Homo sapiens: one gene and its partners. The protein of the gene in region 2 purifies or fractionates together with the protein of the main gene of each other region. This does not show direct contact. Each region holds a gene or a part of one and is shown on either strand. Other genes may lie near its edges. The genes, in order: UBE2O, FGF13 and MARK3.

Evidence for each region.
Region 1: the proteins of FGF13 (region 2) and UBE2O purify together in Homo sapiens (co-immunoprecipitation; 2 studies listed by BioGRID and IntAct, with this or other methods). This does not show direct contact.
Region 3: the proteins of FGF13 (region 2) and MARK3 purify together in Homo sapiens (co-immunoprecipitation; 2 studies listed by BioGRID and IntAct, with this or other methods). This does not show direct contact.

What each region holds. Positions count from the first base shown.
Region 1 is NC_000017.11:76,443,093-76,450,217, forward strand, and holds part of UBE2O ((E3-independent) E2 ubiquitin-conjugating enzyme), read right to left. Parts: intron 1-7,125. UniProt on the Homo sapiens protein: E2/E3 hybrid ubiquitin-protein ligase that displays both E2 and E3 ligase activities and mediates monoubiquitination of target proteins. Negatively regulates TRAF6-mediated NF-kappa-B activation independently of its E2 activity.
Region 2 is NC_000023.11:138,614,179-138,617,794, forward strand, and holds the end of FGF13 (fibroblast growth factor 13), read right to left. Parts: 3' UTR 549-3,616; downstream 1-548. UniProt on the Homo sapiens protein: Microtubule-binding protein which directly binds tubulin and is involved in both polymerization and stabilization of microtubules.
Region 3 is NC_000014.9:103,465,407-103,472,531, reverse strand, and holds part of MARK3 (MAP/microtubule affinity-regulating kinase 3), read right to left. Parts: intron 6,976-7,125; coding exon 6,739-6,975; intron 6,561-6,738; coding exon 6,441-6,560; intron 6,190-6,440; coding exon 6,090-6,189; intron 5,454-6,089; coding exon 5,341-5,453; intron 4,500-5,340; coding exon 4,346-4,499; intron 1-4,345. UniProt on the Homo sapiens protein: Serine/threonine-protein kinase. Involved in the specific phosphorylation of microtubule-associated proteins for MAP2 and MAP4. Phosphorylates the microtubule-associated protein MAPT/TAU. Phosphorylates CDC25C on 'Ser-216'.

The DNA of each region.
Region 1 (7,125 bases), on a different chromosome or scaffold from region 2:
ATAATTCAGGAGGAAATATATTTACATAAGCATACAGATAAGGCAAATATGGCAGGATGTTAACAACTGCTGACTCATAATGGTTGGGGGTTAGCAATTACTGGCTTTCAACATTTTGGTATGGTCAATATTTTTTCCTATTAAAAAGTTGGGTCTTGGGTTCAGAACCAAAAACAAAAAAAGTTGGGGAATATATATATATATTTTTTTCCTCGAGAAAGAGTCTCACTCTGTCGCCCAGGCTGGAGTGCCGGGGCACGATCTCGGCTCACTGCAACCTCTGCCTCCTGGGTTCAAGCAATTCTCCTGCCCTAGCCTCCCGAGTAGCTGGGATCACAGGCACCCACCACCACGCATGGCTAATTTTTGCATTTTTAGTAGAGATGGGGTTTCACCATGTTGGCCAGGCTGGTCTCGAACTCCTGACCTCAAGTGATCCACCCACCTCGGCCTCCCAAAATGCTGGGATTACAGGCGTGAGCCACTGTGCCCAGTCAGAACATTTTTTTTTTTTTTAAGTCCACAGACTTGGGGATGGGAAGGGCAGTCACAATCACAAGATTTTATACCCACAAAGTCTACATGGCACAATGGAGCTATCAAGTAAGCAGCTGGGCATGTGATGTCACTGTGGAAGTCACCTAAATACAGGTACCAGATGCAGCTACAAGCAGGGAGGTCACTCCAAAAAACTGGGGAGGAAGAGATAAAGAAAAGAGAGGTCTTTGGAAAAGCTGCACATCTATGGGTAAGAGGAAGAAGACAAAAGGCAAAAAAGAGAAACATTTGGTATAGTCTGGTATAATAGAACCCCAAGGAAGGAAATACCGTTAAGAGGGCATGGTCGGCCAGGCGCGGTAGCTCATGCCTGTAATCCCAGCACTTTGGGAAGCTGAGGCGGATGGATCACCTGAGGTCAAGAGTTCGAGACCAGCCTGACCAATATGGTGAAACCCCGTCTCTGCTAAAAAGACAAATATTACTCGGACGTGGTGGCGGGAGCCTGTAATCCCAGCTACTTGGGAGGCTGAGGCAGGAGAATCGCTAGAACCCAGAAGGCAGAGGTTGCAGTGAGCCAAGGTTGCACCACTGCACTCCAGCCTGGGCGACAGACTGAGACTCCATCTCACAAACAAAGCAAAACAAAACAAAACAAAACAAAGAGGGTGTGGTCAGCTAGGCACCGTGGCTCACGTCTGTAATCCCAACACTTTGGGAAGCTGAAGTGGGAGGATCACTTGGGGTCAGGAGTTCGAGACCAGCCTGGCCAATACCATGGTGAGACCCTGTTTCTACAAAAATATTTTAAAAAGCCGAGTGTGTAGTTCCAGCTGCACAGGAGGCTGAGGTGGGAGCACTGCTTGAGCCCAGGAGGCGGAGGCTGCAGTAAGGTGTGATCACGCCACTGCATTCCAGCCTGGGTGACAGAGCATAAGGCTGATGGATCAAAATGAGGACAAGGACTGAGAAAATGTCAGCAAATGCAGTGATCAGAAATTCACTAGTCATTTGTGACCTTCAGGGGAGCCGTCACACTCAGTGGTGTGAGAGGTTAGACAGAAAATGACTGAAGGCGAGAGCAGGTCATGAGGAAATGGAGGCAGACATCCATTTCCCCCAGTACAGTGCTGGGATGACCCAAAAGCACACTGGGGGACCAGAGAAATGCTTTCTTCCTTGGCTTGAAGATGATGTCATCAACCTTCAGGGCCCTCAGAATCCCTTAAATAATAAAACAGTCAGAGCACATGAATACCGGGATGCTTTCAGCACTGCATATGTCAAGCCCTGAGGCTCCCAGAATCCCTGGAGACGTATTTGTGTGTCTACACTTCCCACCTGCACTAGCGGTGACCACACACACAGTCCGGTGACCACACACACAGTCCGCTGAATCTGCCGGTCAAGGTATCTATCTTCAACTGCCCTCTTCCAGAGGGAGCTCCCACAAAAAGGACCAGAATTAAAAGGAGGAGGAAGAACATCATCGGAGCTGCTGAGTGTGAAAAGACCAGCTCTCTTGCAGGATGCAAATGAAGGCCTCTCTTTTTAAGGGTGCCTGCAGGAAATCTCTCTGTCAGTGCTAGCTGGGAATATTCATGTCATTGTTGGGTAGGACTGACTGCCTTTTTTTTTTTCTTTTTCCAAGCATGACTCAGTGTTTTAATTTTTTTTTTTACTTTCAATTATCATAGTCAGACTGTTTCCCAGGTATAGTTATGCTATCAATTTAAACCAAAAGTGACCTGAAAAATGTCTTACTCCTTTGACTTAGCTGCAGAATATTAAATATTGCTGTGGCCTCTCTAAAAATGCAAACCAACTCAAAATCCCCCAACCAAAGAACCAGATTAAACCCAAAAAGGACATTCATTCCAATCCTTATTGCCCACTGAATACTTCTGAGTGGTATGTCAACTGACTGCAATGTTTAAACCATAAAAATGTGCTTTTCACAATACTGCTTCAGGAGAACACAGCCTACCTGTGTCTAGGGGTGACCTGGACAAAGCTGACCCAAGGATCCATCCAATACAGTCAGCCTGGATTGAAGGACATTAAATCCTCAATCACAGAGTATAGCTAACGAATGAAACAAAGGCAAATAACTTGGAGTAGATAAATCCAGAGAGTTATCCAGTAACACAATTCAATTTTATTCTCAACTACAGCAAATTCCAATAAGCATTTTGCTCTTCCCTGGCTATAACTGCACACATCAAGTGGCTCCTGACAGAGTCCCCCCGTGGCTGGCTGGAATGTCAGAAGATGAAGCAATTCCGAACGGGCACTCTTGCTCAGTAAGAGCTGCAAATGTGGATGGGCAGCATTTAGACCATGACCTTCTCCAGGACTGGCACCCATTCATGGGCAAGTGGAGCCTCAGGAAGGAGCTACAGTTAAAAATACCGAGATCCTATTAAGTGAGAAAAGTGATAGCCTCTTGTAAACTGGAAAGCACATTATAGACGTTCCTGATTGTAACTTGCCCCTTTTGATTGTCATTTTAAATCAGCAACTCCCCATCGCCATCCAGAAGCAGGCTAAGCCTTGGGCAAGGAAATTCCAAAAGCTTCCATCAGAATAGGAGCACAGATCATATCCTCCTGGGTGAAAACCCACATGTCACAGAAAACCACCCTGACTCCAACTCTGAGGGGACCGACCACCAGCGGCAGCTGACACTGATCACGTGCCCAGGACTGTTGTGCTGGCAATTCATGTTATACACGACAATTGCACCCTTTTAAAAAGTGCTGGCCCCCAACAGGTTCCACTGGATTCCATGAGCCCCCATGGTGGGTTAAGTAGTAAAAAATAGAAAAAGTTCCTCTTAGTATAACAGGAAAATGAAAAAACAAAAACAAACAAAAAAAAAAACCAAACAAACAAAACAGAGAGAAACAGGGATAAAAGTGAAGTAGAGATGGGGAAGGTGCAAAGAGGCCTCTAATGTCCTAAAGCAAAAACACACGGAAACTGAAGGGAACAGAAACTGAAATTGAGGTGGAACTCAGCCTCTCCAAGGAATCCTTCCTGAACCTGTCTCATGACTCAGCATTCCCAGCCGAAGGATGACAGCAGCAGAGCGGACAGGAGGTCAAGTTGGAGCTCCTAATGGAGCTGACCACTTCTGAGGCAACACAGAAATGCCAGTTACGTGGAGTGTCTGCACACTTGTTTTGCTCTAGGAGGTGGAGTTGGGGAATAAAACTGAACTGCAGTTCAGTGTTGGAATGAATCAGACTACAGAGGTTGCTTCATTCAACATTGAGGGGCAGTCAAAGGTTCTCTAGAAATGCAATGTGTTTTTGACAGTTATTTTGAGAATGACTGAGGGGTCAGGGAATGAAAAGAGTGGAATCTGCAGAAGCACACCGCCAGTGCGAATGCAGTGTTCCTCCCGTCCTGCTCCCTACCCATCATCTCCCTCCCTCCTGCCTGCCCACTGGCACAACTTCCACCTATCCCAACATCCTGTGCCTCTCTCCTTCCTCACTTGTAGTACCTCCTATTACACTAAGACTTTCAACTGTTTAAAGAAGGGATGATTAATGCCAACCACAAGGCTTGTGATTCATGTTGGATCAGGGCACTCGGTCACGTATAGTAATGATCTCTGAATCCTGAACTTAAGTATTCTCAGGTGAGAACAAAGTACATTTAGTTCAATTTGTATTCAGATTCCTCCACTTAGAAGTGTGACACTGGGCAATTTACTTAACCTCTCTGTTCCTCAGCTTCCTTCTCTGGAATATGGGGCTAATAATAGCACCACAGGGTTGTTGTGAGCGTGAAGTAAAACATCTAAAGCACTAAGAGTGCCTGGCACACAGTAACAGTATCCTGGATCATGACTGCTCTTATTACCTTAAAATATAAAGCAATACTCTATCATCTTTGTAATTTATAATCTCATTACCAGTCTTGAGAATTTCAAGAGACCTTTCAGACTCTGGAAACATACATACATACATACAGATTCATTCCATCCCCCTCCTGGAGGACGGCCGGGGTTACTTTAAATGTGCATTACTGAATTTCTCACAAAGTAACAGAGGTAGGAAGTTCATGAGTATTTCTAGAAGAGGTTTAATAAAGTCAAACCTATAATCCATCTGGTCACTAGCAACACGAGCCATTAGGAATTCCTATGCCCCTGAAACAACCACCTTCCCCACAACCCGCCTCGTGCACCTTTTGCTTCCCAAGGTGCCTCTTTGGTGCAGCATCACCCTCTTTCTCATGGAAGTGATCTTCTGAAGGCACAGGGCTGGCTCTCTCTGACAGACATCAGAATGCTGTCTGCTAATAACCAAGTGGCCATCCTAGGCTTGACCCAGCTACACTTCTGGTTATTCCATCCGAGCAGGATCATATCGGGGTTAGGAAGATAGACCTCTTATTTCATTGCAGAGGGAGAAAATGAGGCAGTGACTTGGTCAAGGTCATTCAGAGTAGGTGACAGCCAGGAAGAGCACCCAAGGGTTTTGGCTTCCAATCACAGTACAAAACACACACCCTTCATCTGGGGAAAGTACCCTTGAGTCAGGCAGCAGCCAGACAGAAGCACCATCAGGGCACTGAGGCCCGAGGGCTAGAAGGGGAAAAATCAAGGGACAAAGAATAAAATCACAGAACAGCTGTTAAGAGTCTACAAGTGCTGTGATCCTATCTGAATAAAACGCAATTTAGATTCACTTAGTCCTGCATCTTGGTTAACCTTATATAACTTCTTCACATTACATCACTAAGAACAATTGCTTTTAATGGGCCCAGCACCCAGACAAGTGAGACAAACTTCACGTGCCATGATGCTACACCTAAATAGCTTTCCCCATGGAAATGCTGGCCAGCGTAGGAGCCAAAAATAAACTGCAAAGCCAATTCCCGAGGGACCTGTCATCAGGGATGTTTCACACACACAGCTTCATAAAAGCAGGGTGATCACAGACAGCCCTAATTTAGAGGCACTATATCTCAAACCTGGTGAAACCCTGAATGTCATGGCAACTTAAAACAAAAGACAATGCAAAAGAGATGAAAAAGCACAAGAAAGCTAAAGCATAAACGCTTTGCCTCCGAAACGAAGGCTGAACTTGAACTGACAGACAGCAGTCCTGCTCCCTTACCTCGCAGGGGGCTGTTCTGCCCAACCATGACAGGTGGAGACCAGAAGGACCCACCACGTCTAGCCAGTGCTCATGAAGGTTTAAGTGGCTGCTGGCATTTGGCTTTGTTACAAAATTTTATTCAAAGGATGACTGGTGATGGGGAAGGGGCAAGCCTCCTCTAAGGAGATCCATGGCCAGATGGACAGTTTCAAGTGGCTACCTCGCTGAACAGGTCAGAAGACTGGAGAAAGGAAGAAGCATATAAGAGACACTGGCCACTAGCTCCTTTTGAGTCCTTAAGAGGCTTAATTTTGGTGGCTGGAAGCCTCAGGAACACGACAAATTCCATAGCTTCATGGAAGAACTTACTTTGTTTCTGTTGCTATTTTCATGAAGGCAGCAGGGAAAGGACATGACTTGCTGCCCAGTCTCTTCATCTCTCTTTGTAAATTTGTTCACTAAAAACTTGAGACTAAGATTAAGCCTTTACTCATTGCCCTCCAATTTACAGAGAAAACTACAAAAATACGCCACACCCTATGAAACACTCCACATTAAATAGATACTACTAAAAAATTTCAATGGGGCAAGGCACTGTGGCTTATGCCTGTAATTCCAGCACTTGGGGAGGCCAAGGCCGGTGAATCACTTGAGGCCAGAAGTTCAAGACCAGCCTGGCCAAAATGGCAAACTGCCGTCTCTACTAAAAATACAAAAATTAGCTGGGTGTGATGGCGCATGCCCATAATCCCAGCTATGCGGGAGGCTGAGGCACAAGAATCACTTGAACCCGGGAAGTTGAGGTTGTAATGAGCTGAGATCGTGCCACTGCACTCCAGCCTGGGTGACAGAGAGAGACTCTGTTTAAAAAAGAAACTCACACACAAAAATTTTCAATAGGTAGCAGCTTATTAAAAAAAATAAGTTTCGGGCGGGTGCGGTGGCTCCTGCCTGTAATCCCAGCACTTTGGGAGGCCGAGGCGGGCGGATCACCTGAGGTCAGGAGTTCAAGAACAGCCTGGCCACCACGGAGAAACCCCGTCTCCACTAAAAATACAAAAAATTAGCCGGGCGTGATGGCGTATGCCTGTAATCCCAGCTACTCGGGAGGCTGAGGTAGGAGAATCGCTTGAACCCGGGAGGCAGAGGTTGCGGTGAGCCGAGCTGGCGCCATTGCACTCCAGCCTGGGCAACAAGAGCAAAACTCCGTCTCAAAAACATAAATAAATAAAAAATAAGTTTCTCAAAACCATCACTACTGTAGTCCCAGCTACCTGGGAGGCTGAGGCAGGAGGATTGTGTGAGACCAGGAATTCAAGGACACCTGAGTAACAGTGAGACCCCATCCCAAAAATAATAAACAAACCAGTAACTCAAAAAAAAAAAAAAATCTGCCACTACATTATTTTGTCAATAATTGGGTTCTCAAATCTCATAACTAGATTAGTCAATCTTGGTCTAATGGTCTTTCCTTTACGGCATACTATCACCTTGATGGAATTCATAAGGA
Region 2 (3,616 bases):
TTGGCTTTTGAGAATATTGCAGAGCTGAGTAAAAGAATATGGAAATATGGTAAGTTAAAATGCCACAGATTTCACTGTTCTTGCCAATATCCAGCAAATTTTCTAAAATAAAGACTTCTCAAATTCTTACAAGTTTTTAGTTAATTTCCAGAGTTATGAACAAGTTAATTTAGAATTTTCACCTGTGTTCTTATTGCTTTTATGGATGAAAGGGTTTTCAGAAGTTCTTACACTGCAATTTTAGTAATTAACCACAGGAAGAAAATATGCAAACTACACATCTGACAAAGGATTCATAACTGGACTATATAGCAAACTCTGAAAACTCAATGAAAATTTCTTAAAACATCCAATAGAATATAGAGAAAATTCATCAACAATCATTTTGTAAAATAGGATATATGTATCGAAAATAAACACATGAAAAATATAGCTACTTTAAAAAAGTTTGGCAATATATTACAGAACTGAATATGTGATTATTATATAACTCAGAAATGCTTATTAATTTGTCTTAGAGCAATGAAAGCCAATGATCACACAAAATCTTATACATGAATGTTCATAGCAACTTTATTTGTAATAGCCCAAAAGTAGAAAGAACACAAATGTTGTTCAACAGGTGAATAGTTAAACTATGGCACATCTCTACCATGGAATACTACACAGAAATTAAACATATTGCATTACTGATATACACAACAGTTTGGATGCATCTCAAGGGAATTGTGCTGAGTGACAAAAGCCAATCTCTATGTGTTATATACTGTATGATGACATTTATATAACAATTCTGAAATAATAAAATTATAAGGATGAAGAACAGATTAGTGTTTACTAGCTTTTATGGGTGAAAAAGGATGACAGGGAGATGTTTATAAAGGAATAGCACAAGGGATCTTAGTGGTGACGGAACAGTTCCATATCTTGATCATTGTAGTGGTTACCCAAATATACACATGTGGTAAAATTGCATAGACCTACACACATAAACGTGCACGCACACACACACACACATACAAATTAGTGTATGTAAAACTAGAGAAGTCTGAGTAATGTCTGTGGATTATACAGATGCCAATTTCTTGGTTTATATATGATACTGCAGTTATGTAAGTTGATACCACTAGAGGAACTAGATAAAGGGCATATAGCACTTCCCTATACTCTTTGCATCTTCCTTTGAATCTATAAATATTTCAAAATAAAAGTTTTAAAAGATCAGTTGGAATATACACATGCTTATTCCTATAGTAGTGTTACTATATTCAGTTATTAATATATTCTCATAGCTTTCTTCATATGAAGATAAGGTATAGGGAAGAGTCATATCTAGTATTTGGGAAACTGAAAGAAACCCCAGTGGACCCACTTGAGTGTACATCATGGCAGGAAAAAAAAATTGTTTCAGATGTATTATTTTCTGGTACCATAGATAAAGAATAAGGATAATGCAATGGGAACAGTTGAAATATTGGCTTGTTTACTTGCATTTGTATGTTTGTTTTTAAATTTTTACCCTGTGCATTAGTTCATTCTCATGCTTCCATAAAGAAATACCCAAGACTAGGTAATTTATAAAGGAAAGAGTTTTAACTGACTCACAGTTCCGCATGGCTTCGGAGGCCTCAGGAGACTTACAATCATGGTGGAAGGCCCCTCTTCACAGGGTGGCAGGAGAGAGAATGAGTGCCAGCAGGGGAAATGCCAGATGCTTATAAAACCATTGGATCTGTTATAAATCACTATCATGAGAATAGCATGAGGGAAACCACCCCCATGATTCAGTCCTCCACCTGGTCCCACCCCTGACACATGGGGATTATTACAATTCAAGGAGAGATTTGGGTGGGAACACAAAACCAAACCATATCATTCTGACCCTAGTTCCTCCCAAATCTCATGTTCTCACATTTCAAAACACAATCATGCCCTTCCAATAGTCCCCCAAAGTATTAACTCATTCAAACATTAACCCAGAAGTCCAAGTCCAAAGTCTCATCTGAGACAAAGCAAGTCCCTTCCACCTATAAGCCTGTAAAATCTAAAGCAAGTTAGTTATTTCCAAGATACAATGGGGGTACAGGAATTGAGTAAAAATACCCATTCCAAATGGGAGAAGTTGGCCAAAACAAAGGGGCTATAGGCCCATGCAAGTCCAAAATCCAATAGGGCAGTCGTTAAAGCTTAAAGTTCCAAAATGATCTCCTTAGGCTCCATGTCTCACATCTATCCAGGTCACAATGATGCAAGGGGTGGGCTCCCACAGCCTTGGGCAGCTCTTCCCCTGTGGCTTTGCAGGATGCAGCCACCCTCACAGCTCTTTTCATGGGCTGGTGTTGAGTGCCAGTGGCTTTTCCAGGTGCATGGTGCAAGCTATTGGTGGATCTACCATTCTGGGGTCTGGAGGACTATGGCCCTCTTCTCAGAGCTCCACTATACAGTGCCCCAGTGAAGACTCTGTGGGGGAGCTCCAACCCCACATTTCCCTTCTGCACTGCCCTAGCAGAGGTTCTCCCTGAGAGCTCTACCCCTGCAGCAGACTTCTGTCTGGACATCCAGGCATTTCCATACATCCTCTGAAATCTAGGCAGAGGTTCCCAAACCTCAATTCTTGACTTCTGTGCTCCTGCAAGCCCAACACCATGTGTAAGCTGCCAAAGCTTGGGGATTGCACTCTCTGAAACAATGGCCTGAGCTGTATGTTGGCCCCTTTTAGCCACAGCTGAAGCTGAAGCAGCTGGGGACGCAGGGTACCATGTTTCAAGGCTGCAAAGAGCAAGGGGGGGTGCCTGAGGCCTGGCCCACTAAACCATTTTTTTCCTTCAAGGCCTCCTGGCCTATAATGGGAGAGGCTGCAGTGAAGGTCTCTGACATGCCCTAGAGACATTCTCCCCATTGTTTTGGTGATTAATATTTGTAGTGATAGGAATATTCTATATCTTGAAAGGAGTTTCTGTTACATGGTGCACGCATTTGTCAATACACATGAATTGATATACCTAACAGGTTTGTATATGATACAGTATATAATTTTAGCTCCATTTCTCCCCCAAGAAATATAGAAATATTAAACTCTACTTCCTGATATGCATGATAAAGGGTTTAAAGATGAAGTGCATTGATGTCTGTAACTTATTTTGAAATGCAAAAAAATAATTATTTTATAGATAAGAGCATTAATTGATGGATATATTTTCATAATGAAATGTTGGGGGAAATACTTGGAAGTGAATATAATCAACTAACTTGCAACCGTAAGTTGGAGATTGTATCAAATTTGTTAGAGGTGTGGACCAAGCCAAATTAAATTGTAACTATAAGTTTTTTAAAATTTGTGTTGAGCTAAATTGTAAGGTAAACTGAAAGAAGCTGTGTAAAAGAACCAAGGATCATCATGGTAAAGAGAATGAACATGAGGTGTGTGTGTCTGTGCATGCACACATGTGTGTGAGAGAAAAAGAGAGTGAGAAGGGGATAGCTGGGCACAGTGACTCACAATTGGTATCCTCAGGACTTGGGAGGTGGAGGTGGGAGGACCACATGATGCCAGGAGTTCAAGACCCACCTGGGCAACATAGTGAGACCCCATCTCTACAAAAAATGTAAAAATATT
Region 3 (7,125 bases), on a different chromosome or scaffold from region 2:
AGGACTACAGGCACTTGACACCAAGCTCAGCTGATTTTGTTTTTGTATTTTTAGTAGACACAGGGTTTCACCGTGTTAGCCAGGATGTTCTCGATCTCCTGACCTCGTGATCCGCCCACCTCGGCCTCCCAAAGTGCTGGGATTATGCGACCGGCCAGAAATTTCATTTTTATGTAATCAAATTTGTAAGTCTTTTATTTCATGGGTTTGGTGTTTGGGGTGACAGAAACACCTTCACCAGTCCAAGTTACAAAGCAAATAATCCCAAGGTTTCTTTCAATATTTCTGGAGTTTTATTTACATCTTTTTTTTTTTTTTTTTTGAGACGGAGTCTCGCTCTGTCGCCCAGGCTGGAGTGCAGTGGCTCGATCTCGGCTCACTGCAAGCTCCGCCTCCCGGGTTCATCCATTCTCCTGCCTCAGCCTCCTGAGTAGCTGGGACTATAGGTGCCCACCACCACGCCTGGCTAATTTTTTCTATTTTTTAGTAGAGACAGGGTTTCACCATGTTAGCCAGGATGGTCTCGATCTCCTGACCTCGTGATCCACCTGCCTCGGACTCCCAAAGTGCTGGGATTACAGGCATGAGCCACTGCGCCCAGCCCTATATTTGTATCTTAACTCCAATTAGAATTCATCCTTGTATAAGATGTGAGAAATTGATCCAAATTAATTTTTTTTCTGAGAACTACCAAATTGCCCCAATACCACTCATTGATTAGTAAACAGTGATTTTTTTTTTCATTTTTTAAAAAACAAGCTAACCCCTTGAAAATCAGATGATCACCATTCGCAGAAAAAGTGCACACATATGGGGTGTTCACATGTGGGTCTCAAACGAGGAAGGACAGCTACAGATTACATCGTAGCTTTAGAGAAGCAGGCACCCATGCAGAGGTCAGCATCCACAGGCAAGGAAAAGGGAAGGGAGAGGTGAGACGAGGCAGGAGGATGAGGTGAAAGTTAGCCCGGCTATACAGGCTTGCCTGCCTTCAGAAATTCCAAGAAAGATGAGGATTATGAAAAAGCTACTCCAATGAGGTGCTTCAGTGGAGAAAAAACACAGGGCTTGGACCAGCAGGCCTGAGCTCTGCCCCAGGTGTTTCTCATTTACTATGTAACCTTGGGAGACTTGGTAATCTCTCTTGGTCTATTTAGGGATAAAACAGAGGTTTGGTGAGTGTACAATACCATGTCTAAAGCTCTTTTTATCTCTAAAATTGAGCTGGGGGGAAAAAGGCACTAATAATCTGGATGGAATCTATGTGCTTAAGGAATAACTTACTAACATATTCCTTAGAGAAATGTGAAAATCCCATTGTCAGGTTTCTTCTAGGATTGAGGGACAAGTTAAACCAGATGGTTTCAGGGCAATATATGGGCATTTAATTGCCATGTGGTCCATAAGCACTAGAAACCCCCCTTGTTAGTGACTAACATGAACACAAAAAAGGCAGACCTAGATCAACACGTCACCTACAAATGCTAGGAGCACAAATCCTGATGTGAGAATGAGTTCTGAGCTCTCAGTTACACCCTAGAATAGCAGGCACTGTAGATGGTTTACTAGTGATATTAGTACACTGTTGCTTCAGTCTAAACCATGTAGAAAGGCAAGCAACAGAAGGAAGAGAAATGGAAATCAAGCCAAGTGTAATCATTTTTAGTACAAAATCAAAGCTGTCCACACCTAAAATGCCCTGTGCAGTCCTAAGTGTCAAATCTCAAGATGAAAGTATTAAGATGGAAAATGTCCAGAGAAGAGAAATAAAATGAGGCCGAGCGCAGTGACTCATGCCTGTAATCCGAGCACTTTGGGAGGCTGAGGTGGATGGATCACCTGAGTTCAGGAGTTCGGGACCAGCCTGGCCAAATGTGGTGAAACCCCGTCTCTACTAAAAATAAAAAAATTAGCTGGGCATGGTGATGCATGCCTGTAGTCCCAGCTACTCGGGAGGCTGAGGCAGGAGAATTGCTAGAACCCAGGAGGCGGAGGTTGCAGTGAGCCGAGATCGCGCTATTGCACTCCAGCCTGGGTGACAAGAGTGAAACTCCATCTCAAAAAAAAAAAAAAAAATAGATTTAGTTCCTGAATCCTGGAATAGTAGAATTAAAGGAAATATCTGCAATGTTAACATTTATAGTTATGGGCAAGTAAACACACACGCTAGCCTCAGGACTCTGACACACAGGCTGCCTTGAAGGCAGAGCAACTGTAGAGCCTGGTAAGCCTACCCACTGGGAGTCTTATGTCTCATAAAGGACTGGCTTCTAGGTGAAGTTTAAAAGGGAGAGTGGCTTAACCACACTAACAGCAAGAGTATGGATGAGAATGACACAGTACAACATTTAAACCAATTAAGGCAAAACTGAGGTTCCATATATTCTCCAGGGCTGTCCTGTCTATTATGAGAGTTACTGGCCACAACTGGCTATATATTACACTTAAGTACAAATTTTTTTTTTTTTTTTTGAGATGGACTCTCACTCTGTCACTAGGCTGGAGTGCAGTCACACGATCTTGGCTCACTGCAACCTCTGCCTCCCAGGTTCAAGCGATTCTCCTACCTCAGCCTCCTGAGTAGCTGGAATTACAGGCACACACCACCATGCCCAGGTAATTTTTTTATTTTTAGTAGAGATGGGGTTTCACCACGTTGGTCAGGCTAGTCTCGAACTCCTGACCTAGTGATCCACACGCCTCGGCCTCCCAAGGTGCTGGAATTACAGGCATGAGCCACCATGTCCGGCCAGGAAAATTTTAAAAGGGTAAAAATCAGCCAGGCCAATTACAGACTCACACGTGTAATCCAGCACTTTGGGAGGCCAAGGTGGGTGGATCACCTGAGGTCAGGAGTTCTAGACCAGCCTGGCCAACATGGTGAAATCCCGTCTCTACTAAAAATACAATATTGGCCAGGTGTGGTGGTGTGTGCCTATAGTCCCAGCTACTTCGGAGGCTGAGGTTGCAGTGAGCGGAGATCATGCCATTGCACTCCAGCCTGGGTAACAAGAGCAAAATTCCATCTCAAAAAATAAACAAATAAATAAGGCCAGGCGCGGTGGCTCACACCTGTAATCCCATCACTTTTGGAGGCCAAGGTGAGTGGATTGCTTGAGCTCCCAAGTTCAAGACCAGCCTAGCCAATATGGTGAAACCCTGTCTCTATTAAAAATACAAAAATTAGCCGGGTGTGGTTGTGCATGCCTGTAATCCCAGCTACTCAGGAGGCTGAGGCAGGAGAACTGCTGGGACCTGGGAGGTGGAGGTTGCAGTGAGCCAAGATCATGCCACTGCATTCCAGCCTGGGCGACAGAGCCAGATTCCATCTGAAAAATAAATAAATAAATAAATAAATAAAAATAATAAAAAATAAATAGAAATAAAAAAGGTAAAAATCATTTCCTCAGTTCAAGTACTTGATAGCCACAAGTGGCCAGTAGCTTCTTGACTGGACAGCACAGATACACAAAACTGTAATCATCTCAGAAAGTTCTACTGGACAGTGCTACTCTACAAAGTAAATCCAATGCAGAGGTGAAGAGAGTGAATAGAACTACAGACTAGCAGTTCTATTCAGTTCGGTACAGCGCCCAGTTCTAGCGCTGGGCATGGTGGCTCACGTCTGTAATCCTAGCACTTTAGAACGCTGTGGTGAGAGAATAGTTTGAACTTGGGAGTTTGAGACCAGCTTGGGCAACATAGCGAGACCCCCATCTCCATTTAAAAAAAAAAAAAAAAAGGAAAACTACAGATTAAAGCAGAGGTTCTAGAAGGGCAAATGGTAAGGTTTCCACTCAACTAAGCTTTATCCAGCAAAAATCTACTGCATGTATAAAGAAGATAAGAGCCTTGAAGTAATATGTAATCATGGCAGCACCTGCAGGAACACTAAGAAAAAATGCTGGCCAGGCACGGTGGCTCATGCCTGTAATTCCAGCGCTCTGGGAGGCCAAGGCAGGTGGATCACTTAAGGCCAGGAGCTGAAGACCAGCCTGGCCAAATGTGGTGAAACCCCGTCTCTACTAAAAATACAAAACTTAGCCAGGCATGGTGGTACACACCTGTAGTCCCAGCTATTCAGGAGGCTGAGGCAGGAGAATCGCTTGAACCTGGGAGGTGGAGGTTGCAGTGAGCCAAAATTGTGCCACTCCACTCCAGCCTGGGCAACAGAGTGAGACTCTGTCTCAAAAAAAAAAAAAAAAAAAAAAAAAAAAGAAGAAAGAAAGAAAGCAATGCCAAGAAAGGACATCAAGCCAGGCTCTGAGCAAGAGAATGCTTCCCAGTGCTAGGAGACCTCTTGCCTGGACTCTAAGAGAAGGCACTGGGATACTCCAAAACTTACCATGGTCACTGTAGCGTCTTTGCTTTTGGCTTGAAGAAACACTTCTCTGCACTTTGTGGTGAGGAGACTGGCCAGTACTGTTGTTGAGATCACTGCTCGGCCTAACCTTAGCAAGTGAAAGATTGCTGCTAGAACTGGAATCACTAGCATCCAGCTAAGAGAAAATGAGAAAAACAGAGCAAACCACAACACGAACCCAAATGGCTTATTAGGAAGTTAAACTTTTCATTAACACAGACCTCTCATAAACCGTTCATTCAGAGAGAGGAGGAATCACAACGTACAAAAATGACAACCCTAAACTCAAGCAAAAGTAGTTTTCTGACGGCTGGAAAGACACTAAAGGTAAGGTATTTATGATTTTCTTTCCAGGCTTTCTCAAATAACTTTAAATGTTGTATTTACTTCATCTGATGCTTTACGTCATTTCTAAGCTATTAATGACTACAGGTTAATTTATGAAAGACCAGGTTTATGACAACATCCATCTTTTTTTTTTTTTTTTTTTTTTTGAGACAGAGTCTCGCTCTGTCACCCAGGCTGGAGTGCAGTGGCGTGATCCTGGCTCACCGCAACCTCTGCCTCTCAGGGTCAAGCAGTTCTCTTGCCTCAGCCTCCCAAGGAGCAGGGATTACAGGCAAGCGCCAACACGCCCAGCTAATTTTTTGTTTGTTTGTTTGTTTTAGCAGAGACAGAGTTTCCCTATGTTGGCCAGTCTGGTCTCGAACTCCTGGTCTCAAGTGATCTGTCCGCCTTGGCCTCCCAAAGTGCTGGGATTACAGGCATGAGCCACCACGCCTGGCCAATATCCATCATTAAGGGTTAAGTTAAAATAGCTTATAATAGTCATAGGATTTAGATTTGCTATTTGCAAGTAAATCTAAAAAATGATGTATCAAATGTTACAAATATTCAAAAGATAAAAACTAAGAAAACAGTTTATATAAACTAATAATTACATACAGGGTATTTCAGCTCTTTCTGATTACTCTTACCTCTGAAGATTTTCTCCCCAATAACAAATATGTAGCTGTGATTTCATCGTATTTCATCTTACTAAGAGATTCTTGAATTTCTTCTTGTGAATATCCCATTCCCACCATAATATCTAAAAGAAGGGCATAATACAGTTTATGTGTTTTGTTTGGGTAAGAAATCATCCTTTTTTTTTTTTTTTTTTTTGAGACGGAGTTTCACTCTTGTTGCCCAGGCTGGAGTGCAATGGCGCGATCTTGGCTCACCGCAACCTCCACCTCCCAGATTCAAGCAATTCTCCTGCCTCAGCCTCCCGAGTAGCTGGGATTACAGGCATGAGCCACCGTGCCTGGCTAATTTTGTAGTTTTAGTAGAGATGGGGTTTCTCCATGTTGGTCAGGCTGGCCTCGACCTCCCGACCTCAGGTGATCTGCCCGCCTTGGCCTCCCAAAGTGCTGGGATTACAGGCGTGAGCCACCACGCCCGGCCAGAAATCATTCTTTTGTAGGGTAAAATAATTTTCATTTGACCTAAAAGATGACATATTACATATATTTTGTAACATAAATGGGCACTTGTTTCAGAGTTACTGGGTGCCATTATAGGAAACTGCAGGTAGTTACGTTCCTAAATATGACAGAACAGATAAACTGTTCATATGACTTGTGCTTAACTTTCCATTATTCACATTTTAGGCACAGACATGAGTCAAAACAGAAATATGTTACTTAGACAAAAACACATGAACATGCAGGCATGGAGTGATTACCTATTCTTTTTTGGTCTGAGATGTCTAGCTCTGGTTCAACAAATGGTTTGAGTTCATCTTCTTCATGCCCTGCATTGATCCACCTGTCCTTCATGATTTGCTAAAAAAGGTAAACTGTTCATTAGCAGAGTAAAATGAAATATTCTGATAACCGTAATATTTACAAAAATTTATTTTCAACATTTCATTGACTATCGTTCAAAGCATAAACTCAAAAAATATTTTTTAATGTTTCAATTCTTGCTTAAAAAGCCGCAGGATATATCCAGTATGGCATACAAATCAAGCAAAGATCTAAGGTCACTCTAAAGACTCTCCAAAGTTACTGCTTGTTTCCACCTACATGATTACCTCTAGAGTGCCGCGTTTAATTGGATTTAGCACCAGGAAACGTTTGAGAAGGTTTTCACAGTCTGTAGACATGTAGAAGGGAATTCTGTATTTCCCTCTTAATACTCTCTCTCTCAGTTCCTTTGGAGAGGTACAGAGGAAAGAAAACGAGTAAGTCAACCTTTAGGTTTAGTTAACAAAACACAACAAAAAACCCCCTGAAACCCCCCGCACTGATATAATGTTAAAAATATTAAGCCATGTAATATTAGGAAACTTCTTTTAGTTTAGTGAAGTACATGGGTGCAGCTTCTTATACCTTTAGGTTTTGCCCATCAAAGGGAAGTGAGCCACTGACTAGTGTGTATAAAATGACCCCCAGACTCCACACATCCACTTCTGGCCCGTCATATTTCTTGCCCTGGAAGAGCTCAGGTGCTGCGTATGGAGGACTGCCACAAAACGTGTCGAGTTTACCGCCAACAGTAAATTCATTGCTAAAACCGAAATCTGCTATTTTAATGTTCATATCGGCATCTAACAATAGATTTTCAGCCTAGAGGGAAAACATCAAGACAAAAATGAAATTTAGCCAAAATAGAATTAGAATTATGACAGGATTAGGCATTTTAGAAAAGCTTTCTGTAATGATATGAAGTTACCTCCTAATTAATGTGAAAACATTCTTTCTAGAGAAAAAAACAGG